Homo sapiens: one gene and its partner. The protein of the gene in region 1 purifies or fractionates together with the protein of each later gene. This does not show direct contact. Each region holds a gene or a part of one and is shown on either strand. Other genes may lie near its edges.

What was found.
Region 2: the proteins of EPHX1 (region 1) and MFSD8 purify together in Homo sapiens (affinity purification with mass spectrometry; 3 studies listed by BioGRID and IntAct, with this or other methods). This does not show direct contact.

The regions. Positions count from the first base shown.
Region 1 is NC_000001.11:225,821,981-225,838,206, forward strand, and holds part of EPHX1 (epoxide hydrolase 1), read left to right. Parts: intron 1-2,230; exon of another isoform or gene 2,231-2,323; intron 2,324-3,373; exon of another isoform or gene 3,374-3,564; intron 3,565-6,744; 5' UTR 6,745-6,749; coding exon 6,750-6,932; intron 6,933-9,798; coding exon 9,799-9,979; intron 9,980-16,226. UniProt on the Homo sapiens protein: Biotransformation enzyme that catalyzes the hydrolysis of arene and aliphatic epoxides to less reactive and more water soluble dihydrodiols by the trans addition of water.
Region 2 is NC_000004.12:127,939,008-127,949,215, reverse strand, and holds part of MFSD8 (major facilitator superfamily domain-containing protein 8), read left to right. Parts: intron 1-5,223; coding exon 5,224-5,464; intron 5,465-7,057; coding exon 7,058-7,171; coding exon of another isoform or gene 7,172-7,177; intron 7,178-9,218; coding exon 9,219-9,363; intron 9,364-10,208. UniProt on the Homo sapiens protein: Outward-rectifying chloride channel involved in endolysosomal chloride homeostasis, membrane fusion and function. Conducts chloride currents up to hundreds of picoamperes.

The DNA of each region.
Region 1 (16,226 bases):
TTTTCTAACAGTTTACATTTAGTCCATCTTTGAAGGGTAAAGACCATTGATTGCTCATCTAACTTCTTCACCTTGAACTTAGTGAGATTTTCTTCCACCTTTCACAAATGCATGCCCAAAATTTGACTTCAGTGTAGAATTGGAATTAAAATGTATGCAATCCCATTTCTTACAGTAGGAGCCAAATGTTCATCAAGTTCCCCTCTGAGCTCAGTATCTTGTAGCTAAATGACCACTATCTTCCAGTCACGTTTTTAAAAAAAATCATGCTGGTTTGCAACAAAAATTGTATTTTCTTTACTAGGCAAGTGAACCATTTTGTTGGGAAGAGTACCTTGGCTTCGAGAAAAAAATGATTTCATTCTGAAAGGCTTCCCCTCCAACCCCCTCCTGCACAAACTCTCAGCCCAGTAACTTGTCAGTATTCTGGAAAAGTGCATTACAAAACAAAAACTCGAATCAGATAAAATATATCTCTGGAACTTTTGAGGCAGATCAATGAAGCTCTGATTTCAGGTGCTAGCAAAATAAAGCAGGCACTCTCATTTTGTATTGTTTTACTTCTCAGTTTTTCATGGTGTCTCCTAAACTTTGATGTTTTGAAGAAGTTCTAATGTTTGCTACATCAGCAGGAGCTGACCACAGGGAAGAGATAAATATAGCTCTCCTTGGAAAGGTGAAGGCTTAGCCACCAGAATTCTGCCCCTTGATGCTGAGAATGCACCTTCTCCGAACAGATGGAAAAGAGGGGTGGAGATTACCCCAGGGACATATCTTGCAAAATGCTGATACCCGAAGATGTACATAGCCTTGTGCTTTGGTCATCCTCCCAAATCATGTCCTTGGTGAAGGCACATGGAGAGGAGAGCAGATGCTGCCAGACCACGGTGCCTGACGCCATGCACTCCCTCACGTCCAGCCTGTTTATGTGCACACGGCTGCAGCGGGACCTTGGGGTGTGGGCTAAATAACAAGAACAGGGGCTCCTCTGGGGTCTGTTACAAGGCAGAGATGCTCCACGGTAATTAGGGATTTAGGGGAAGAGGAAGGAACACACATGTTGATAATAAGTAGTTCAACATTATTATCCCCATTTTACAGATGCAGCTACTGAGCTTAGAGAGGTTTCATAACTTGCCCAGAGCCCCTCAACTAGTAAACAGTGGAGCCGAGATTTGAACGACCCAAAGAGGAAAGCAAACAAGCAGCCCCTTTATTACTTTTTTTTTTTTTTAAGATGAGGGTCTTGCTATGTTGCCCAGGCTGATATTGAATTCCTGGCCACAAGTGATTCACCACCTTGGCCCCACGAAGTACTGGGATTACAGTCATGAGCTACCACACTGGGCCAAAGCCCTCGTATTGTAACCTCCAAGATGTTTTCATTTCTAAAGTCAAAGGTTGTCAGAGTTGCTGTTTTGCAGGGAGCCATGGGATGGGGAGTCTCCGGGAAACCCAGGCTGGCTCCTTAAATGGCATCACCCAAGTTGGCCATCAAGCTTCCCCAGACTCAGTCACTCGGCCCCCTCTTTCCCTGGCTGTAGAGCAGGGGTTTGGACTCGAGGCTGCTGAGTTCCTCTCCAGCTTCCATGCCCAGTGGCAGTGACTTATCAACTGGCCCACCCGGTGGATGTAGGGGTGATGCAGCCCTGCTCTGTCCTCTTGAGTGCTGGGTGGCCATGAGAGAGGGAGGCCATGAGAGGGAGGGGAGGGTTCTCATCTGCTTAGTGCCACCCCCTCCCCAGCCCACCCCAGGTCCTCTGCCGCCTTGGGTTCCTGCGTGAGCAGTCCTTCTCACTCTGGGCGATGTTCGCTTTCACCAGCCCAACCCCAAGAAGTCCACCCTGGGGAGGACAGAGGGAGTCTCCACGGCTCCACACCCCCATGCTTTGTCGGAGATCTGGCCAGGCAGAGTGGTGCCCTCTTGACTGAGCCTCGAGCCTTTGCTTTCCCCTTACTCCACATAAAGCCGCAGCCCTGGCGAGGGAGCCCAGAGGCCTGAGGACAGCCTGCTGGGTGCCTGGCACTCTCTAGATCCTCCCTGCCTGGGCGGTGGGCATCTGCAATTCTCCCTGTCTCGAACTGCAGCAGAATGTGTGGGCAGGGTTAGGCAGATAGAGAGTGGGTGCCTGGACTCATTGGTCAGACTCTAAGACCGCCCACCCCCGCCGCCCCCGCAGTCCTTCCCAGGACTGGCTGACCCACCAGATAGGGGAGGGTGTTGTTTCTTATTATTACATTTTTTGAGAAAAGCTATGCAGGCCTGGGAGACGTCTGTGCCCTAGGAGTCCCTTCTGGCCTGAAGACTCAAGGCTGCAAACAGGTGCTGAGAGGGAACAAGAAGGGGAGTTGGGGTGCAACACACCCAGTGACAGACCAGGAGTGAGTGCTGTGGCCACAGATTCTAATCCTCACAACTGCAGTGTGATTTAGGCTAAGCCCCTTGCCTACTCCGATTCTTGCCTTAAATAAGTGAAAAGGAAAGTCAAGTTTGATGAGTTGTGGCTCTTTAGTGGGTGGATTTGCATGTACCATGGATTACATTTACCAGGGTCTAGGAATTGTCAAGCGCCCAGCAGGCTGCCATCAGGCCTCCGAGCTCCTTCGCCAGGCGGCTTTATTTGGAGTAAGAGGAAAGCAAAGGTTTGAGGCTCAGTCAAGAGGGCGCCACTCTGCCTGGCCAGCTCTCCGACAAAGCAGACGGGGGGGTGTGGAGCCGTGGTGACCCCCTCCGTCCTCCCCAGGGTGGGCTCCTTGGGCTTGGGCTGGTGGAAGTGAATATTGCCTGCAGCAAGAAGAAGGACTGTTCATGTGGGAGCGCAAGGCGGCAGCGGGGTTGGAAACCCACCCCCACACAGTCAACACCTGCTGTCACACCAGGCTAATCAAGAACACTTTTCTTTGGTGCATTAACCACCTGCTATTAAATAAAGGGCTGTTACTAGGTGGCAAAGTAACACACTGCAGTAGAGCCTATTTGTAATCTGAGATCAGTGGCTGTAAGGCACCATCCTTGAGCCAAGCAAGTACTAATATTCTTGTTATCTTAATTAGAATGCAAGAGATCGTGTTTTTAAAATTCTCTTTGAATCTGTCACTTTGCCCTCCTCTTCCTGGGTGATACACCTGGTAGTGCTGGTGGGGGCCATCATAATGCCCCTTGTCCCAGATTCCCTTCTTTTAGATGGGACTCGAGCACTGATCATTTCAGCCCTGTATCTCTCAGGTCAGCGTGGTTCAGTTTGCTGTGCAGAGTCCAGGGGAGATAACCACGCTGTGCACACATGAGATTGGCTGACTTGGCAGGACTGTGCAATTGTCAGAAGGCCGTGGGGAGTGGGGGCCAGTGCCTGCAGCCTGCCCTGCCTCTCTCACAGGCCCTTAGAGCATCGCCAGGTGCAGAGCTCCACAGCTCTCTTTCCCAAGGAGTAATCAGAGGGTGAGAACGTGGAGCCTGGTGGACAGGTGAAAGCACTGGGATCTTTCTGCCCAGAAAGGGGAAAGTTGCACATTTATATCCTAGAGGGAAGCGACAGCAGTGCTTCTCCCTGTGCTGAGGTACAGGTAAGGAGGGTGGTTTGTAAAGTTCACTGGGGAGGGTGATCCCTCTTTATTGTTCTAATATTATGCTCGCAGCCTCCTTGACAACATCATGCAAAATGTGTCTTACTAGCTTCTAGTGCATAAAATATTGGTGGAGCTCTTCGCTGTGCTGGGCCAGTCACCAGTGCTGGGCACTGTGGGTCAAGGCAGTGCCCAGGACGGGCACAGCCCTGCCTTCCCAAGCTATGGTTTATTGTGGTAGGATCTGCCTGCCCAGTGAAGTGTGTTCAGCTGCTCCTGTTGCTGGGGGAAGCTCTGCTCTCTGCCTTCGGCTGCCTCCCACACGCTCCCATGTGTCTCCCAGTCCCTAACCCCTAGTCCTGCTTTCAATACCGCAGGGGCTTTTAGCTGACTTTTCTCCATCTTCTTAAAGGGCAGGATTTCCTGGCAGAGACATAACGTCTTTCTGGAAATGAAAGAAGCTGATGCATGTTTTTTCTTTTCTGAATTACTTAAATAAGAGGAACTCATTTCCAGGTATTCCCTGCCTTGTTTTTATTGTGGGAGTGTGGTCCCAGCTGCCCATCTGATCAGCTGACATAGGGTCCTTGGGGCCCAGGCACTGTTACTGCTTGGGATTGAAAGATGAAAGCCACAGGGCCAGGCACAGCAGCTCGTGCCTCTAATCTCATCACTTTGGAAAGCCGAGGTGGGCGGATCGCTGGAGGTCAGGAGTTTGAGACCAGCCTGGCCAACATGGTGAAACGCTGTCTTTACTAAAAATACAAAAATTAGCAGGAGGTGGTGGTATGCACCTGTAATCACAGCTACTCAGGAGTCTGAGGCACGAGAATCTCTTGAACCCAGGGACAGAAGTTGCAGTGAGCCGAGATCGCACCACTGCACTCTTTGAGACTCTGTCTCAAAAAAAAAAAAAAAAAAAAAAGGGAAAGCAATGGCCTGGCTTGGCTGGAGATGGAACATGCATCAACGTGTCCCACGTGTCTCCAGCAGGGATAGCGAAGGCCTGCCCCCTGGCACATGGTAGACTGAGTAAATGTTGATCAGTGAGACCTTGAGGCACTTTAGAGTTTCACAATCCAGAGAGGGAGATAGATTGGAAGTTCAAGGGTGGACACCTGGGCATGATTCCCAGGACGAAGGCTGCAGTCGGTTCTAAGAAGTATGCTGGTGACTATGAGAGAAGAGGTTGTGGGTTTCCTCTCTTGAAAGCTGTCTCCATAATCACATGTGGGGTGATAAGGGCTCTGGTCCAGGGGAGGGGGCGAGGCACACAGGGGGCTGAATCTGATGGCATGAGGACTTGGTGATGGGCTGTGGGGAAAGAATTGGAGATGACTCTAGGGCCTGAGGGTGGGAAGCTGGGAGTTCACTGGGATCACTGATAGAAACGCGGAGGTGGGGGGTGCCAAGCTGATTTTCCTGATTAGATTTCCTACAGAACTGCAGGAATAAGGCGAGAGCCATCGCCCTGGGTGGATTTCTGTTTGGAGCTCTATCGCTGGACCACTGTGGACAAGTATTTCATAGAACGACCCCCAGTAGCCCAATTCTAGGTTTAGAGGGGCAGCTCTTGACAGGAGCAAACTCCAGGGCCTCTGCAACCCCCCAGCAGAGTCCCAAACATCTGACATGTAGCCAATGGAGGACATGCAAGTGGTGGGGTTCCCAGCAGGGACCACCTCCTGCCTTGGGTTTCCAAGACAGAGCGAGGGGCGCTGCTGGGGCGTGGTTTGCAGGGGCCTTGTCAGAACTCGATGCTTTCTCCTCCGTCTGGGTCCTAACTGCAGTGCATCTAGAGACCCTCCTCTGACTCAGGCATAAGGACGGCCCGCATATTCATGCAGGTTACTCTGAACAAGAACAGTCTATGGGTTACTTCCCTAGGAATGAGGAAGATGAAGAGCTAGATAACAATGCTGGGCTGGTATCTGCCTGATAGTGCTTTGCCAAGACTATGGTTTCTTCCTCTTCTGATCAAAAAAGACACAGGAGTCAGACAAATGGGGATTAAAAGACAACTGAGTTGATGTGAAATGTAACAGGCAACACTATGGACACAGAAAGTAGATTAGAGGCTGCTTAGGACCTAACGTGGAGGGCAGTAGGGGAGCGACAGCTGAAGGGTATGGAGTTTCTCCGTGCCGATGAAAATGTTCTACAGTTGACTGTGGCTATGGCTGCACATGTCTGTGAATATCCTAGAAACCACTGGAGGGTTCACTTTAAATGGGCGAATTGTATGGTATATGAATTATGTTTCAATAAAGCTCTTACACAGCTAAGCTGTGTGGCCATGGCTGGGCTTCCTAGCAGTGTCCCCCAACCCCAAATTGAACTTACTCTCCCAGCACTTGGGCCTCCCCATTACCCCGTCTGCCCTGAGGATAAGCCTCTCTCCAAGAAGGACAGAGCAGGGGCTGTGGGCCACCATTCAGGAAAGGTGCTCCTCTCCCCTGGGGGAGGGAACCCAGAGGTCATGGACAGAAGCCTTCTCAGACATGCAAAAAACATGAGGCTGTCGGGCGCCGTGGCTCACACCTGTAATCCCAGCACTTTGGGAGGCCGAGGCGGGCGGATCACGAGGTCAAGAGATTGAGACCATCCTGGCTAACATGGTGAAACCCCATCTCTACTAAAAATACAAAAATTAGCTGGGTGTGGTGGCACGTGCCTGTAGTCCCAGCTACTCGGGAGGCTGAGGCAGGAGAATGGTGGGAACCTGGGAGGCAAAGGTTGCAATGAGCTGAGATTGTGCCACTGCACTCCAGCCTGGTGACACAGTGAAACTCCATCTCAAAAAAAAAAACAACATGAGGCCTCAGAAATGTAGCTCCCAAAACCCCCTACCCAGGGCTGTGCAGAAGCCAAACCAGGTTCCTATTTTCCCAGGATGATGAACAGTTTTCAAAGCTTAGTAGGATTGTGGGTGATTTTGTCTCATTGTCTGTTGTTTTTCCATTTTTCTAGATCATATATATATAATATTTATACTATATATAATATGTATATAGTGTGTGTATATATATATATAATATGTATATATTAGGTCAAGTGTAAATAAAATCAGGGACAGGGTTGGAGCGCAGCAGGAAAGAGCCTGCTGGGGATCAGAGTCTCTGGGCTGTCAGGGCCGGGCTGGGCGGGCTCCGTTGTTAATGGCTTCCCCTCATCTTGCAGGAGCCATGTGGCTAGAAATCCTCCTCACTTCAGTGCTGGGCTTTGCCATCTACTGGTTCATCTCCCGGGACAAAGAGGAAACTTTGCCACTTGAAGATGGGTGGTGGGGGCCAGGCACGAGGTCCGCAGCCAGGGAGGACGACAGCATCCGCCCTTTCAAGGTGGAAACGTCAGATGAGGAGATCCACGTAAGGCACCTTGGGCCGGGCCGGGCTGGGCAGTGGAGAGGGTGGTGTGTCGAAGACAGGGGTTGGGTCTTAGGCCAGATGCGGGAGGGGACGGGGGCTTGGGAATGGTCCATCCTACTTGGGAGTGTGTTTCAGTCTGCTTTTCCTCTGCTGGGCAGGTGCAGGTTGCTTTGGAGAGGGATGCCCAGCCCTCCCACTTTCTCTCTTCTCCTTTCCCTACCCAAGGCCCAGCAGTGCTCAGGCAGGAGATGGGGTAACCTGTATCAAAGGTCACAGAAAGCAGCTGTCATCACCTCCTCTATGCCCTGCCTGAAGCCTTGGGAGTGAGGTTGTGGGAGAAAGTGAGCAGGTTCCCGTCAGAGACCCAGGAAGCACTGAGAAGGCAGGGATGCTACTGGTTAGGCACCGGCTGTGTGTCAGCCATTCCTGGTCACATTCAATCCCTACGGTGATCCCGCGGGGTGAGGATTGTTGTTCCCAAACTGCAGATGCAGAAGCTGAAGCTCAGGGGCATAAAGCAACTCGTTCAAGGCGGCCTAGCTAACATGCGGAAGGATTTGAAGTCCAATCTAATCCTGAAGCTGCTGCCCCTCCTCTGCACAGGGATAGAGTCAGGAAGGAGGTGACTGGGCAGGTGGGGTGAACTGAGAATGCATTCTCGGGGAGGAGCAAGGCTTGAGTGGGGGACAGGACGGTAGGCAGGCCTGGCATGGCCCTGCCAATCCTTTCTTTCATTCCGTGGGTTTTGAGCACCTACTGTGTGCAGGCCCAGTGAGTGCTTGGGAGAAGAGACAGCCCCTTCCGTCCAACAGCATACAGTCCAGTGAATGAGAAAAGGAATGTGCACAAAGAAAAGTAGACTAAAAGATAAATAAAGATAGGCTAGGTGCGGTGGCTCACGCTTTTAATCCCAGCACTTTAGGAGGCTGAGGCGGTGGATCACCTGAGGTCAGGAGTTCAAGACCAGCCTGGCCAACATCGTGAAACCCCGTCTCTACTAAAAATACAAAAAATTAGCCGGGCATAGTGGCGGGCACCTATAATAATCCCAGCTACTCGGGAGGCTGAGGCAGGAGAATCCCTTGAACCCAGGAGGCAGAGGCTGCAGTGAGCCAAGATCACACCACTGCACTCTAGCCTGGGCAACAAGAGTGAAATGCCATCTCAAAAAAAGAAACAGATGCATAAGGATAAATGTCACAAAAAGCATGGATAAAAGTCATGAGAGTTCCAAGGAGGAAGAGATTTAAAAGCAGAAGCTGGGCTAAACCCAAGAGCAACCAGGCTGAGGCTCCCTGGGTAGGACTTGCTTGCTGCAGCCTTGCTATTTAGGGCCAAGGCTGAGCCCTAAGGAAAGCTCCTTTAGGGAATTAGACTCCTAAGGGAGTCTGAGATTTCCAAAATCTGTTTGGGGGTAACTGAAACACTTGGGAAGAAGCCTGGGAATGGTGATGCTTGAGAGGCTCTCTAAGCTGACATGAACTTCCTCCCTCTGGGGCTGGCCTTTTAGCCTAATACATGCCAATGAGACTTGCACCCTCTCTCCTGGTCTGTAAATTTTTTAGTTTTTGGAGACAGGGTCTTGCTCTGTCACCAGGCTGGGGTGCAGTGGTGCGATCTTGGCTCACTGCAACCTCCGCCTCCTGGGTTCAAGCGATTCTCCTGCCTCAGCCTCCCAAGTAGCTGGCATTACAGGCACCTGTCACCATGCCTGGCTAATTTTTGTATTTTTAGTAGAGATGGGGTTTCGCCATGTTGGCCAGGCTGGTCTCGAACTCCTGACTTCAAGTGATCCACCTGCCTTGGCCTCCCAAAGCACTGGGATTACAGGCGTGAACCACCGTGCTGGGCCTGGCCTGTAATTTTTATCCCAACTCAGTTATAATGTATCATTCAATGTTGTATATCAGGGGTCAGGAAACCAGGCCCATAGACCAAATGTAGCCTGCTACCTGTTTTAGCACAGCGCCCATGCCAAGAATAGTGTTTACCTCTTTAAATAGTTAGGGGGAAAAAAATCAAAAGAAGAATAATAGTTTGTGACGTGAAAATTATATAGCAGTCAGATTTCAGTGTCCATAAATTTTTATTGGAACACAGCCACCCCCATTCATCTGTGCATTGGCTATGGCTGTCCATAAATAAAGTTTTATTGGAACACAGCCACCCCCATTCATCTGTGCATTGGCTGTGGCTGCTTTCACACTATGAAGACAGTGGAGTCACTGCAGCCTGCAAAGCCTAGAATATTTACTATCTGGCCCTTTACAGAAAAAGTTTGCCGACTCCCGCTGTAGAGACGCCTGGGTAAATTAAAGATGAGTATCGTGTATACACTTAAAGAGTAAAAGATGAGCTGGGCGCAGTGGCTTACACCTGTAATCCCACCACTTTGGGAGGCCAAGGCAGACAGATCACTTGAAGCCAGGAGTTCAAGACCAGCCTGGCCAACATGGCAAAACCCCGTCTCTACTAAAAATGCAAAAATTAGCCGGACATGGTGGCTCACACCTGTAATCCCAGCTACTCTGGGAGCTGAGGCATGACTGGCTTGAACCTGGGAGGTGGGGGTTGCAGTGGGCCGAGATCACGCCACTGCCCTCCAGCCTGGGCAACAGAGTGAGACCCTATCTCAAAAAAAAAAAAAGAAAAAAGAAAAAAGAAATGCGAAGTCTACAGTGAAGAAGGAAGAAGTGAAGAACACATCCGCTTTGGGAGTAGCCAGTGATGTGGGAAACTGCCTTGCCACTCCCAGAGGGCAGTATCTTGTGGCTGCAGGGTTTGCTGTGTTTTCTGGAAACAGACTTTGCTCTTGTGCTCTGTCCTTCCCATCCCTCTCAACTTGGGGTCCTGAATTTTGCTCCAGGACTTACACCAGAGGATCGATAAGTTCCGTTTCACCCCACCTTTGGAGGACAGCTGCTTCCACTATGGCTTCAACTCCAACTACCTGAAGAAAGTCATCTCCTACTGGCGGAATGAATTTGACTGGAAGAAGCAGGTGGAGATTCTCAACAGATACCCTCACTTCAAGACTAAGATTGAAGGTATGTTTGCAAAACGCCAGCCAGAGAGGGATGTATGTCATGAGAACAGCCTTCTTCCACAATGTGACTTACAGTCAGATAAAGTTGGAGAGATTCAGAACCCAATTATAGGTGACTGAGATGTACTTATACGTTGTAACCTTACTAAATGCAAAAATATTGCAGTCACAACAAATCTGTCCATCTTTAGAGCTAGGCAGGAACACATACATGCAATTTAAAAACCAAAGAAATGCACCATCCAGTCCAATGATGTGGCAATCTTTGAGAGGAAGGATGGAGATGAGATTTAGACCCAGGCCAAGTGGGGTGGCTCAGAACTGTAATCCCAGCACTTTGGGAGGCTGAGGTGGGTAGATCACGAGGTCAAGAGTTCAAGCAGCCTGGCCAAGATGGTGAAATCCCATCTCTACTAGAAATACAAAAAATAGCCAGGTGTGTTGGCAGGCAGCTGTAATCCCAGCTACTCTGGAGGCTGAAGCAGAGAATTGCTTGAAGCCAGGAGGCGGAGGTTGCAGTGAGCCAAGATCGCGCCACTGCACTCCAGCCTGGGCTCCATCTCAAAGAAAGAAAAGACTCTGCTCTCAGTTCTTTTGGATCTATACTCAGAAGTGGACTTGTTGGATCATACGGTAATTCTGCGTTTAATTTTCTGAGGAACCGCCATACTGCGTTCCGCAGCAGCTGCACCATTTTACTTTCCCACCCAACAATGCCTCAGAATCCCGATTCTCCAAATCCTTGCCAATATTTTTTTCCTTTCTTTTTTTCGGTAATGGTCATCCTAATGGGTATGAAATGGTATCACATTGTGGTTTTGAGTTGCATTTTCCTAATGATTACTGATGTTGAGCATTTTTTATGCGGTACTTATTGGATTCTTTGTAATTTCTCCGAAGAAATGTCTGTTCATGTCTTTTGTCCATTTTTTGGGTGTTTTATTAGGGTTTAGGAGTTCTCTATATATTCTGAATAAAATCTCTTATATTTGCAAATGTTTTCTCCCACTCTGTGGGTTGCCATACAATTAATCTTTTTCAGAGACAAGGTCTTGCTGTGTTGCTCAGGCTGGAGTGCAGCGGCTATTCACAGGCGTGATCATGGCTCACCACAGCCTCGAACTCCTGGGCTCAAGCAATCCTCTCGCCTCAGACCTCCTGAATAGCTGGTACTATAGGCGAGCACCACTGTGCCCAGCTTGTTAATTTTTTATATTGAAGAAATTGTACATGTTAGGAATCTTATTTTTAATGTTTTAAGATAATTTGGCCTTTTCAAGGAACAGTGAAGATTTTAATTTGTTAAAATTCTAGGAATTACTTAAAGTGTATGAAAGACATGTTGGTCAGTCAGATAAACTAAAGTTCCTAAAAAAAGGAAATTGAAATTATAGTGTTAACTGGGTGTGGTGGCATGCACCTGTAGTCCCAGCTACTCAGGAGGCTGAGGCAGGAGGATTGCTTGAGCCCAGGAATTCAAGGCTGCAGTGAGCTACAAGGACACCACTGCACTGGGTGACAGATCAAGACCCCATCTCTTAAAAAAAGAGAGAGAGGCTGGGCACGGTGGCGCACGCCTGTAATCCCAGCACTTTGGGAGGCTGAGGCAGGTGGATCACGAGGTCAGGAGGTTGAGACCATCGTAGCTAACACGGTGAAATCCTGTCTCTAATAAAAATACAAAAAATTAGCCAGGTGTGGTGGCGGGTGCCTGTAGTCCCAGCTACTCGGGAGGATGAGGCAGGAGAATGGCGTGAACCCAGGAGATGGAGCTTGTGGTGAGCTGAGATCACACCACTGCACTCCAGCCTGGGCGACAGAATGAGACTCTGTCTTTAAAAAAAAAAAAAAAAAACAGGCTGGGCGCCGTGGCTCACGCCTGTAATCCCAGCACTTTGGGAGGTCAAGGCGGGCAGATCACAAGGTCAGGAGATCGAGACCATCCTGGTCTAACTTGGTGAAACCCCGTCTCTACTAAAAATACAAAAAATTAGCCGGGCGTGGTGGCAGGCGCCTGTGGTCCCAGCTACTTGGGAGGCTGAGGCAGAAGAATAGCGTGAACCCGGAAGGCGGAGCTTGCAGTGAGCCCAGATTGCGCCACTGCACTCCAGCCTGGGTGACAGGGCAAGACTCTGTCTCAAAAAAAAAAAAAAGAAAAAAAAAAAAAGCCGGGTGCGGTGGCTCACACCTGTAATCCTAGCACTGTGGGAGGCCGAGGCGGGTGGATCCCAAGGTCAAGAGATCGAGACCATCCTGGCCAACATGGTGAAACCCCGTCTCTACTAAAAATACAAAAATTAGCTGGGCATGGTGGCACGTGCCTGTAGTTCCAGCTACTCGGGAGGCTGAGGCAAAAGAATTGCTTGAACCAGGGAGGCGGAGGTTGCAGTGAGCCGAGATCGCGCCACTGCACTCCAGCCTGGCAACAGAGCAAGACTCCATCTCAAAAAAAAAGGGAGAAAGGAAGGATGGACGGAAACCTCGACTTGGAGGTGCCAGGGCAGCAAACATCCTTGTTCTGATGCAAGCAGGCCAGGCCTGTGGGAGAATGAGCCAGAGAAAAGCTAAGTCAAATCCCAGTGGTGTGTGTCCTGGAACTAGAGCCCATCCTGGAGCTCAGCCAAGAACACTAAAAAAAAAAAAAAAAAAAATCTGGAATGATTTTTTGGATCAAATTTGGACTTCTCTTGAGTGTTGCTGTATTCTTTACAGTAATTTGATATCTTCTATTATGAGCCTAACAAGAGGATCCAAGCCACTTAATCCCAGCCAAACTGCTGTATGCAATTACCATAGGTTCCTGTTTGGATTCCTGGCACGAAATTGCCTGGCTTCCTTGAGTTTGACTTGGATCCCTGTGTTGTCCCAGCTCTTCAGTGTCCATCCAGCAGAAACTAACAGGGCGCCTGCTGTACCCAGGCATTCTGCTGGGGCTGGGGACGCATAGAGAGGACAGGGTCCCTCCTTCACAGCTCATAGGCTCTTCAGGGGCAATTCCAGCACATAGTGGCGGTGTTCTGAAGGAGGAGGCTCTGGGAGCTTCATGAGCCCCACAATCTTCCTTTGAATGTGAGGGAAGGCTTCCTGGAGGAGGTGGCATCTAAGCTGAAATGAGTGGGACTTTGCCAGGTGTGTGGGGAAGGTGGTCCAAGAAAGGGGAACAGCATGTTCAAAGGCCCAGAGGCAGGAGGCAGTAAAGGGCCCTTTCCATCCTGGCAGCTGCCAGCCTTACCCCACTGGACCCTTTCAGGGTTCTTCATGAGACTGGGTTTTTTTTAGAGACAGGGTCTCACTCTGTCAGCCAGGCTGGAGTGCAGTGGTGTGATCACAGTTCATTGCAGCCTCAATTTCCTGAGCTCAAGCGATCCTCCCACCTCAGCCTCTCAAGTAGCTGGGACCACAGGTATGCACCACCACACTAGGCTTTTTTTTTTTTTTTTTTTTTTCTTGAGACGGAGTCTCGCTCTGTCACCCAGGCTGGAGTGCAGTGACGCAATCTCGACTCACTGCAAGCTCCGCCTCCCAGGTTCACGCCATTCTCCTGCCTCAGCCTCCCGAGTAGCTGGGACTACAGGCGCCCGCCACCATGCCCAGCTAATTTTTTGTATTTTTAGTAGAGACGGGGTTTCACCGTGTTAGCCAGGATGATCTTGATCGCCTGACCTCGTGATCCACCTGCCTCAGCCTCCCAAAGTGCTGGGATTACAGGTATGAGCCACGGCACCCGGCCTTTGTTTTTTCTTTCCTTTTTTTTTTTTTTTACATTTTTAGTAGAGACAAGGTCTCACCATGTCACCCAGGCTGATCGCAAACTCCTGGGCTCAAGCAATTCTCCCACCTTGGCTTCCCAAAGTATCAGGATTATAGGTGTGAGCCACCACACCCAGCTGACATTGGGCATTTATGGTACAAAACCTCCCTCAGGTACAACGGCTCCAAAAGAGCCAGTTTCCAGCATTGAATTCATCGTGGACTTACCCATGTGTGGTTCTGGCACCCTGCCCGGGGCTGGAGGCCTGTTCTTGGCCTTGGTCCTTTAGAATAGGAGTAAATTTGGCAACATAGGAGGACACCCAGGATACATTGTTAAGTTAAAAAAAAAGAGATTCTAAAATAGAATGTATGTATGGTTCTATTTTTGTTAAAAGTTATGTTCTCTAAGTCTTTTTAAAAAGTTTGAACTGTCACAGCCAAGAAGGGTCTAAAGAGACATGACAGCTCAGTGGTGTGTGAGTCCTGGATGGGATCCTGGAACAGAAAATGGATATCAGGGGAAAAACTGAGGAAATCTGGCTCATATTTTGTTGTGTGTAGATACCAGCATTATCCAGGTTTTAAAAAGGAGAAAATCCTGGCCGGGTGTGGTGGCTCACGCCAGTAATCCCAACACTTTGAGAGGCCAAGGTGGGAGGATGGCTTGAGCCCAGTAGTTTGAGACCAGCCTGGGCAACATAGCGAGACCCCTTCTCTACAAAAAAAAATAACAAAAATAGGCTAGACATGGTGTTGCCCACCTGTAGTCCCAGCTACTTGAGAGGCTGAGGTGGGAGGATCACTTGAGCCTGGGAGGTTGAGGCTGCAGTGAGCCGTGATTGTGCCACTGCACTTCAGCCTGGGCAACACAGTGAGACCTCATCTCTAAAAGAAGAAGAAAAAAAAAGGAAATCCTGCAATGTGTGACAACATGAATAAACTCTGAGGAAATAATGCTAAGTGAAGTAAGCCAGGGACAGGACAAATACCGCATGATTCCACCTATAGAAGGAATCTGAAATAGTCAAACTCAGCAGAAGCAGAGAGGAGAAGGGTGGTTGTCAGGGGCTGGGGAATAGGGGAAACGGCATTGCTGATCGTTGCTGTGTAAAGTTTGAGTCCTGCCAGCCGAATACATCCTAGAGATGGGCTGTACAGCAGAGCGCCGTCAGTGTTGGACACTTACAATCTGTTAAAAGGGTAGGACCCATATTAAGTGTTCTCGCCATATAATAAAAAGTGTAAACACTAAGGAAATCAATGGACTTTATAGTTAATAATATCTCAGTCTGGTTCGTTAATTGTAATAAATGTACCATGCTAACATAAAATATTAATAATGGAGGAAACCCGGTGGGTGTGAGGTATATGGGAGTTTTCTGGATTCTTTGCAGTTTTTCAGCAATCTAAAACTGTTCCAAAATAAAGTTTAGACAGACAACACCATGTTTTCTTTAGAGAGTGGGATTACATGTGAGTCTTCCCCCTTTGGCTTATCTGTGTTTTCTAAGTTTTCTACAGTAAACATGTATTATTTGTATAATATATTAACGACAGAACAGAACATTAGCTAGACCATGCTGACTGCACCAGCCCTGGTGGCAGAGAGTTCCAAGCATGGCAGCCGCCCTCACTGTGAATGCCGTAAGGCCCCAGGTGCTGTCCAGGGCACTGGCCTGGGAAGGGGCTGCCTTCTTTTGATATGCAGAGGCCCCAAGTCAGTCCAGAGGAGACAAGAATCCATTCACCTGCCCTTGGCTATGATGATGTTTTCAGCATTGCACTTAAAAAAAAATCTTCCACTTTATTTTATTTTAATTTTTTGAGATGGAGTCTTGCTCTGTTGCCCAGGCTGGAGTGTGGTGGTGTGATCTCGGCTCAGTGCAACCTCTGCTTCCCAGGTTCAAGCGATTCTCTTGCCTCAGCCTCCCGAGTAGCTGGAATTGCAGGCGCCTGTCAGCATGCCCGGGTAATTTTTTTGTATTTTTAGTAGAGACGGGGTTTCACCATGTTGGCCAGGCTGGTCTTGAGCTCCTGACCTTAGGTGATCCACCCGCCTCAGCCTTCCAAAGTGCTGGGATTACAGGCGTGAGCCACCACACCAGGCCCAAAAATACTCCACTTTAAAGAAAATATCATTTGGTAATCAGAAAAAGGTGACATTTTGTCAATGTGTATGAAAAAAATTATGCATTTAATACCTGTTCATTGTAGAAAAATTGGAAAGTACATAAAACTCAAAGAGAAATTAAAAGCACTGGAATCTACTGCTCAGGAGAACTGCTTTTTACATTCTTGGAGTTTATCCTCCCAGACTTTTAAAATTCACCAATACATAGTATAAGTACAGTATAAGCATAGATGACTTTTTATAAAAACTGGGTCACACAATGGATATGACTTGATCATTTGCTTTTACCTCCCAGCAATATCTTCTGATCAGTTTTCTATGTTAAATAAATATACATCTACCTTGTCAGTTTAGATGACTGTAC
Region 2 (10,208 bases), on another chromosome or scaffold:
ATAAGTTGGTTACATAATTCATCTATAACAATGTTTTAGTAAAGGTTCTTAAAGAGTTCCTCTGTATTTCCTAACCTACTCCTTAACCTACTGCTATCTGATTAACTTTTCTGCTGTCCTGAAACTGCTCTTGTAAGGTTTCCAATTACTTAATTGTTGATCACGAAATACTTTTCAGTCCTTATTTTAGGTGACACCTGGATAGGATTTGACATTGTTGTCCTCTCCTTACTTCCTGAAACCACCTGTATTAGTCTGTTTTCTGTTGCTTATAACAGAATACCCTAAACCAGATAATTTATTTTAAAAAAGGAATTTATTTCTTACCGTTACAGAGGCTGAGAAGTCCTAGTTTGAGAGACCACATCTGGTGAGGGCCTTCTTGCTGGTGGGGACTCTCCGAAGAGTCCCAAGACAGTGTAGGGCATCACATGATGAAGGGGCTGAGCATGCTAGCTCAGGTCTCTCTTCCTTCTCTTATAAAGCCACCAGTTCCACTCCATGATAACCCATTAATACATAAATGGATTCATTCATGAGGGCACAGCCTTCATGATCCAATTGTTAGTTGGCAGATCTGTGTCTGTACAGGTCTGCAGCAACCTCAATTCTTGCCTCCTGAAAGAAATAATTCAAGTAAAGGACATAATGCAGAAGGAGAAACTGAGGCAAGTTGTAGAGCAGGAGTTAAAATTTATTAAAAAGCTTTAGAGCAAGAATGAAAGGAAGGAAAAGAAGGAAAGTACACTTGGAAGAGGGCCAAGTGGGCAACTTGAAAGACAAGCCTGCGGTTTGACCTTTTGACTTGGGATTTCATACACTGGCATAATTTTGGGGTCTTGCATTACTTCTCCCCACTCACCCCACCCCTGAGATCGTATCAGGAAGCTGCTAATTACCAGGTGTTTTCTATTTATTAGGAGGCTGCCTTTTCCTAGCACTAGCTGTGACCAATAATTACTTTAGAGAGCGTTAACAACCGCCTGACCATCACCTAACAGTCTCTCCACACTCCCCATGTGAGGGGCAGGGGAGACCTCTCCTGCCCTGTTCATACCCAACTAGCTACCTAATGTAACACAGTCACTTCTTAAAGGTCCTACCTTTCAATATTTTAATAATATTAATTTAAATATTAATTTCCAAAAAATGAAATTTGGGGGACACATTCAAACCATGGCACCACCTCTTAGCTTCTGTGACATTTCTCTATCCTGGCTTTCCTCTTAACTCTAATGACTTATTCTTAAATTCTTTTGTGTATTCTTCCTTATCAGTTTATCCCTTGTTGGTTTTTCTATGAGGTTGGAGAGAGAGTGTGTGTGTGTGTGTGTGTGTGTGTGTGTGTGTGTTCACACGTGCATATGTGTGTTTTATCCTAGATTCTGAACTTTGTCCCATATTAGATGTATAGCCAACAATTTATTAGATAAATCCATGGTACTTGGATGAACCCAGGCTCCTCAGGTCTTTACACATTTGTCTCCCTTTTTACTGGAATGCTTTTCCTCTCTCCATCTTTCTTTTGCTCTCCCCTTTCTCCTTCCTCACTGTCTTTTATTCACTCTTCAAGGTTTTGCTCCAGTGTCACCTCCTCTGGAAAGCCTTCTCTCTCTCTCTGTTTTTTTTTTTTTTTTTGCAATGGAGTCTTGCTCTGTTGCCCTGGCTGGCATGCAGTGGCGTGATCTTGGTGCGCTGCAATCTCTGCCTTAAGGGTTCAAGCGATTCTCCTGCCTCAGTCTCCCAAGTAGCTGGGACTACAGACGCCAGCTACCACACCCGGCTAATTTTTGTATTTTTAGTAGAGACGGGGTTTCACCATACCGGCCAGGCTGATCTCTACCTGACCTCAGGTGGTCCACCCACCTCGGCCTCCCAAAGTGCTGGGATTTCCACCTCCTGGGTTCAAGCGATTCACATGCCTCAGCCTTCCAAGTAGCTGGGATTACAGGCACCCGCCACCATTCCTGGCTAATTTTTATAATTTTAGTAGAAGTGGGTTTTCGGCATGTTGGCTAGGCTGATCTCGAACGCCTGACCTCAGGTGATCCTGCCTCAGCCTCCCCAGTTGCTGGGGTTACAGATGTGAGCCACTGCACCTGGCCTGGAAAGGCTTCTCTCACTGTCCCTCACAACAATTTGGGTCAGAAGCTTTTCCTGTATACTCCCGTTTCCCTTTATCATTAGCCCTTAATATGGAGTGTCCTAACACTGTATTTACAGAGAGTTTACTTAACTCCCCTACTAGATTGTCTAGATTGTTAGGATTGTTTTTTTTTTTAATTTTTGTGGTTTTTTTTGTAAATGGAGTCTCGCTCTGTCACCCAGGCTCGAGGTCAGTGATGCAATCTTGGCTCACTGCAGCCTCCACCTCCAAGGTTCAAGTGATTCTCCTGCCTCAGCCTCCCAAGTAGCTGGGATTACAGTCGTGCACCACCACGCCCAGCTAATTTTTGTATTTTTAGTAGAGACAGGGTTTCACTGTGTTGACCAGGCTGGTCTCAAACTCCTGACCTTGGGTGACCCACCACCTCAGCCTCTCAAAGTGCTGGCATTACAAGTGTGAGCCACCATGCCCAGCCCAGTTTTTACGAATTTCTACTTTTTGAAAATGCTCTCCTAAAATATATTTTTAAAGGAATATAAGAAGAAAAGAAATACAAATTTTACTTTTTACTGGTTTAGTGCCATATTTTCATTGCTATTTTGAAAATAATATTACATGAAATTATTACCCATTACACTAAAAATTCTTTCCATGCTGGTAGTCATTGGAATTGGCACAATTCTGGAGCAACGTCTTCTCTACTAAAAAGATATTTTCATGTATCAAAATTCTTAATTTCTTGGCATTTAGTCTTTTTAGTCAAAATTCTCAAAAGAAGGATATTAGTAGTGATTAGGTCTACTCAGCATACTATGTTGAGTTTTGAAAAGTACTCTCTTTTCTCCAGATATTTTGAAAACTCTTTAAAGAGTCTTGCTATCAGGCCCAGTGCTGTGACTCACGTGCCTGTAATCCCAGCGCTTTGGGAGGCCAAGTTGGGAGGATTGCTTGAGCCCAAGAGTTCAAGACCAGCCTGGGTAACGATATAAGACCTCGTCTCTACAAAAAAATTTAAAAAGTTATCTGGGTATGGTGGTGCTACTCCCTGTAGTCCCAGCTGCTTGGGAGCCTGAGTTGGGAGGATTTCTTGAGCAAAGGAGTTTGAGGTTACAGTGAGCCAAGATTATGCCACTGTATTCTGGCCTGGGTGACAGAGCCAGACCCTGTCTCAGAAAAAAAAAAAAAAAAAAGTTTTGCTTTCAAACCACTACACATTTAACATTAAAATTGAGTTTTCATTGCTTTTTTGAAAATTAAAATTTTATGTAACATGAAATTATTATTTTCTATTTTAGTAGAGATGACAAATGAAGCTAAAGGTAATACAGGAAGAAAATGAAAACCAGAGTACCTAAAATGAAAGATATTTTAACGGCTAGAACTTTAAATATTATGTATCATTATACTTTTGCATATTATTTCTTATTTTTTTCATAAAGAAAAACGCACCTAAATATTTTCACTTTAAATATCTTTAGGGAATTACCAGGCACGGTGGCTCACACCAACAATCCCAGCACTTTGGGAGGCCAAGGCAGGCAGCTCACCTGAGGTCAGGAGTTAAGAGATCAGCCTGGCCAACATGGTGAAACCGCGTCGCTACTAAAAAAAATATAAAAATTAGCTGTGCCCACGTGGTGGCACATGCCTGTAATCTCAGCTACTTGGGAGGCTGAGGCAGGAGAATCGCTTGAACCTGGGAGGTAGAGGTTGTAGTGACCTGAGATCGCACCATTGCACCCCAGCCTGGGCAACAAGATCAAAACTCCGTCTCAAAAGTAAATAAATAAATAAAATAAAATAAATAAATAAATATCTTTAGGGAACAAAAGGTCATAGTTTTCCTTATTAAATTGTTCTACCACTTATCTATATTTGTTTAAATTTATTTCCTAAAATTTAATAAAAGCCATTAAATAGGAAGATTAGAGATAGAATCTTCCTATGTTGCCCAGACTGGAGTGCAGTGGCTTTTCACAGGTACAGTCATAGTGTGTTACAGCCTCCAACTCCTGGGCTCAAGGGATCCTTCTACTCTAGACTGCTGAGTAGCTGAGATTACAGGCATGGGCCACTTCGCCTGGCTTAGCCTACCACATATGAAAAAAAGTAATCTGGCTGAGTGCGGTGGCTCATGCCACTAATCCCAATATTTTGGGAGGCCAAGGTGGGAGAATTCCTCCCTCCCGCGGCAGGAGGATTGCTTTGAGAGTTGGAGGCGGGAAGTTCAAGACCAGCCTGGGCAACATAGGGAGACCCTGTCTCTACAAAAATAAAAAAATTAGGTGGGCATGGTGGTGCATACCTGTAGTCCTGGCTACTCAAGAGGCTGAGGCAGGAGGATCACTTGGGCCTCAAAGGTCGAGGCTGCACTGAGCCGTGATCGGACCACTGCGCTCCAGCCTGGATGTCAGAGTGAGACCCTGTCTCAAAAAAAAAATAAAAATAAAAATAAACAATAGTGCCTTTTCTAAGCTAACATTTTCTATTTTTCTGAAAGTATTTTATTTTCTGAGTTGTAGTCATTTGGTTCTCCCCTTAAGTTCATCATGATATGTAAACCCTTTTAAAGTGGTAGAATACTGAGTGGTCTATATAGAACGGAAGAATTTATAACAGGTTTATTGAGATAATTGTCTATCATCTTTTGTGTTTTTATTATCTTCTTTATGCATTTGACTCTTGTGCCTAGTTTTTTTAAAAAAAATGATTTACAGCGCTAATGGCTGTTTAACGTATAGGGTAGCATAAGTCTAAAGAATTCTATTTACAAGAATTAAAGAATAGCTTATATTATTTTTCATGATGTTATTGCTATATGCGTATATAGTGTGTGTGATTATCTTCTTACCAAGGTTTATATGAACCAAAAATTTCCAGTCATTCTTAAAAATGAGCCTCCCAAGCATTTTTCCCTTGTGTACAGTCTATTGTTAGCACATTTAATTGTATTGTCAGAAGTTTGAATCCCTTACTATAAGTAATAGTGTTATAAAACTTATACGTTAGAATTGTTTTTATTTTTTGATAGGAAATCTTACATGGTATGACAAATGTATTTAGTTTTAAACTTTTCTTGGATAACAATTCTTAAAGCACTGTACCTTTTTCTGCAGATTGATCCGACAGCTGATACAAGTTTTTTGGGCTGGGTTATTGCTTCATATAGTCTTGGCCAAATGGTAGCTTCACCTATATTTGGTTTATGGTCTAATTATAGACCAAGAAAAGAGCCTCTTATTGTCTCCATCTTGATTTCCGTGGCAGCCAACTGCCTCTATGCATATCTCCACATCCCAGCTTCTCATAATAAATACTACATGCTGGTTGCTCGTGGATTGTTGGGAATTGGAGCAGGTAAGGTTGTATGTATATGTTTGGTTGTGTCATATTCACATTCATTCTGACATTTATGGCTCACTTTTAACTGGTCTCATCCCCTTTTAAACTCATATTTCACAGTTCAACATACATGTTTCTCATTGTAAACAAATATTTTTCTTATCATTTTGCCTTTGCTCATGATGTTCTCATTACCTATAGTTTCTCTTCTGTTCTCATCATTCTTCATCCTTCAAGATTCAGTTTAAACCAGGTGTGGTGGCACGTGCCTATAATACCAGCTACTCAGGAGACTGAGGTAGCAGAATCTCTTGAGCCCAGGAGTTCGAGGCCAGCCTGGGTAACATAGGGAGACCTCCATCTAAAAAAAAAAAAACCCAAAACAAAAATAGATCCAATTCAAGCTCCACATTTTCCACAAAGCCATCTTGGGCTACCCTGCCCCTTGAGAGATTTTTTTCTTCTCTGACATGTCTCTGGCACTTGCTTATAGTATTGTACTGTTTCTATCCTTTCTCACTAACCAGATAATAATTTTTTTTTTTTTTTGAAACGGAGTCTTACTCTGTCACCCAGACTGGAATGCAGTGGCGCAATCTTGGCTCACTGCATCCTCTACCTGCCTGGGTTCAAGCAATTCTCCTGCCTCAGCCTCCCGAGTAGCTGGGATTACAGGCGTCTGCCACTGCACCTGGCTAATTTTTGTATTTTTAGTAGAGACGCAGTTTCACCATCTTGGCCAGGCTGGTCTTGAACTCCTGACCTCGTGATCCACTCGCCTCGGCCTCCCAAAGTGCTGGGATTACAGGCATGAGCCACCATTCCCAACCTAAACTTTTTGCAATTAGAAAGAATTAATGATACTTTAAAAATATCCTATGCCCCCTAACAGAGTCTCTTGAATGTAATGTACTCAATGAAAATTTTCAGTAAAATTGTTAGTGCATTTTTTTCTGTTTCTTATATTACATGTCTATGCATACAGAGTTTGTAATATTGTAATACTTTTCTTTTAAAAACAGTTGTAGTAATCAATGGTATGCCATTCACTCAGTGCTTTTTTAGTACTAAGTAAGTTTGATATTCTTTTTTTTTTTTTTTCACTGTTGCCCAGGCTAGAGTGCAGTGGCGTGATCTTGGCTCATTGCAACCTCAGCATCCTGGGTTCAAGCAGTTCTTCTGCCTCAGCCTCCTGAGTAGTTGGGACTACAGGTGGATAATTTTTGAATTTTTAATAGAGACGGGGTTTCACCGTGTTGGCCAGGCTGGTCTTGAACTCCTGACCTCAAAATGATCCACCTACCTCAACCTCTGAAAGTGCTGGGGTTACAGATGTGAGCCACTGTGCCCGGCTTGGTTTTCTTATGATACCATTTTTTCACTCATTGATATCTTTAACTGTTTTCATATTACCAAAACTAGTATGGTCCATTAATTGATGCATTTGCTTAATAAAAATACCTTACATGCTTTGTGTGATCATAAAGAGGAAGCAGTGACTGTACTGTTGACCAAGATTTCTTCTTCTGTATAAAGTCAAATTGGATTGAATTTTATAAGCTGAATGATACTTTCTTTTACTTTGGATTATTGTGTCTTGTTTTTAAGGAAATGTAGCAGTTGTTAGATCATATACTGCTGGTGCTACTTCCCTTCAGGAAAGAACAAGTTCCATGGCAAACATAAGCATGTGTCAAGCATTAGGTTTTATTCTAGGTCCAGGTAGGTGTTCTTCACATGTCATTACTTGAATTTGAATTGGGAAAACTTTTGAGGCTTAAATATTCAGTGTAACCCAAGTATAAAAACTCATAGCTGAAGGGAAAGGGAGGAAAGCTAATTTTTTTTTTAATCCAGGAATGAGGCTACACTCATTTTATCTTGATGCCAATCCACTAAATTAAGTGCTATTAGTCCCCTTTTATAGTTGAGAGTGCCAGTGCATAGAGAATCTAAGTAAATTGTCCAAGGTCACCCTTTTGCTGAGTGTTAAAAAAATTAGTGAGGCCATGCGTGGTGGTCCACACCTGTAATCTCAGCACTTTGGGGGTCTGTGGAAGGCAGATCACCTGAGGTCAGGAGTTTGAGACCAGCCTGGCCAACATGGTGAAACCCCATCTCTACTAAAAATACAAAAATTAGCCAGGTGTGGTGGCGGGCACCTGTAATCCCAGCTACTTGGGAGGCTGAGGCAGGGGAATCGCTTGAACTCGGAGGCAGAGGTTGCAGTGAGCTGAGATCACATCATTGCACTCCAGCTTGGGCAACAAGCGCGAGACTCTGTCTCAAAAAAAATTAATGAGATTTAGTATTTCCTCAAGGCAAATTAATTTTCTGCTGAGTAAAGAATCAGTCATTTTCATGCCTAGAATAATATTGAAAAACCATATAATTGGTCCATATTTTGAATATTGAAGTTATGAATATTATCAGTTTGAATCCAACTCAGCTTACTTCATCATTAACACCCCATCTCCCACCCCCAGTTTCCATTACGTTCCTCTATTTAGCCAAAAAGAAAAGGCTCAACAGAAGGGAATCTAATTCACTGTTCACCAAAATCTACTATTTCAGTTTTGTACCCTGAAACAAATACAAGCACAAATGTAGAATAATTGAACTTGAATACTATATTGTAAAGTACATGAGGACATGGTTTGAGTCTTTATTTACCAGTCTACCCTCAGTATCTAGCATAATACCTGGTATAGACTTATGTTCTTAGTAAATATTTTTTACCACCTTAAAAGCATTTTAAAGATTATGTCATTTAAAAATTTTGCATTATAGATGAGTAAATGTAAGCCTGAAAAGCTTCGATGACTTTTCCAATAATAAGCCCTCAACAAGCACTAACATTTATTGTGTGCTTACTGTATGCTAGTCACTGTTCTAAGTACGGTAGGTGCAATATTTTAGTCCTCACCCTAGAGTTATATGTGAATTACTATAGAGCCACATATTGAATCTAAATCAGAAGAGCAAACCAGTACTCTTCCAATTGAGTTTTTGCCACAGATCCAAATTAGATTTTGCCACTTCATATTTCTTTAGAGTGCTTTATCCAGCAGTCCAAAAACACTTCTAACTAATGTTTAAAATCACTAAAAAAAACTTCAAATACTAAGGTGGATTATGTATGCTTTTGGATGAAATAATTTTTTTTTTTCATTTTACTTGTATATAATACTATGGTCAAATGATAATAAATATATACACACACACACATATATATATATATATATATATACCATATACAGAATAATATTTAAGATATCTGGTCTAAAATATGATATTTTCATTCTTATAATGAAGCTGATTAAACCTTTATAATTAATTTTTGGAAGAAATTGTATAATTTAAATTGCCTATGGAGATGTTTTGTAAAAAACTGAGAAGTTATGTAAGATACAATTCCTTGTGAATGCATGTAAATCAGTGTTTCACAACCTTTTTTTCATTATTGTCTCCCTAAGGAGCCTTTTTCGGTATTTTTTTCCTACTCTCTTTACCCCATAAAATTTTAGTGCCACAGATGTGTCATATATCTTTTATGTACCATATGTATATCTGTACATACCTGCTTTATACATAAAAAGAGGAAATTTTTTGACCCCCCATCAAGAACCAATTCCATCTGTTGAGAATGCATGATATAGAAGGATGATTCCATAACATTGTTCCCAATTCTGTTGTAAATGTCTTTTTCATTTTTTTATCCTATGCTTCTCATATAATAATTCATCTGTGAAAATTTTATCTTAATAAGTTTTTCAGACTTGTTTTACATTCCTTGGAGAAAAAGGTGTGACATGGGATGTGATTAAACTGCAGATAAACATGTATACAACACCAGTTTTACTTAGCGCCTTCCTGGGAATTTTAAATATTATTCTGATCCTTGCCATACTAAGGTAATTAGATAGAAATGATAAAACTATTTTTGTAGATTGTGAAATTTAATGAGCTTTGTAATTGTTGGAAGATAATTATCCTTATGAAGTGTACGTAGTTTTTTATGTCTATAGTTTGTTTATATTTTTTGGTCAGGTAGTACTAAAGCATGTAATACTGGCAACCAAAAGACAACCTGATAAATGAGAACAGAAAAGGAAGGTCTTTGAAGATTCAAAGTTTTTTTTTTTTTTTTTTTTTTTTTTTTGAGACAAGATCTTACTCTGTTGCTCAGACTGGAGGGCAGTGGCACTATCTCGGCTCAATGCAACCTCCATCTCCCGGATTCAAGGATTCTCATACCTCAGCTTCCCGAGTAGCTGGGGCTACAGGTGCATGCCAACACATCCAGCTAATTTTTGTTTCACCATGTTGGCCAGGCTGATCTTGAACTCCTGACCTCAAAGTGATCTGCCCACCTCGGCCTCCCAAAGTGCTGGGATTACAGGCATGAGGCCATGTGAGGCTGTGCCCGGCCTCAAGGTTTGGTCTTGATTTACTAACTACATGTTGCTAAGTAGGGGAAAGGCATGGAAGTAACATTTTAAATAGATTAATGGATTTGTATCAGTCTTAAATATAAAAGTTACTAGTAATGTATATCTCTTATCTTTTATATATTCGAAAAAATTTTTTAAAATTATGTTTTATTTAGAGTGCTTTATTCAATAGTCTAAAAACATTTATTACTAATGTTTATAATCACTGTAAAACTTCAAATACTAAAGTAGATCATGTATGCTTTAGGATGAGTTGGATTTTTTTCATTTTACCTGTTTATGATAATTTGATAAGAATTGTAACT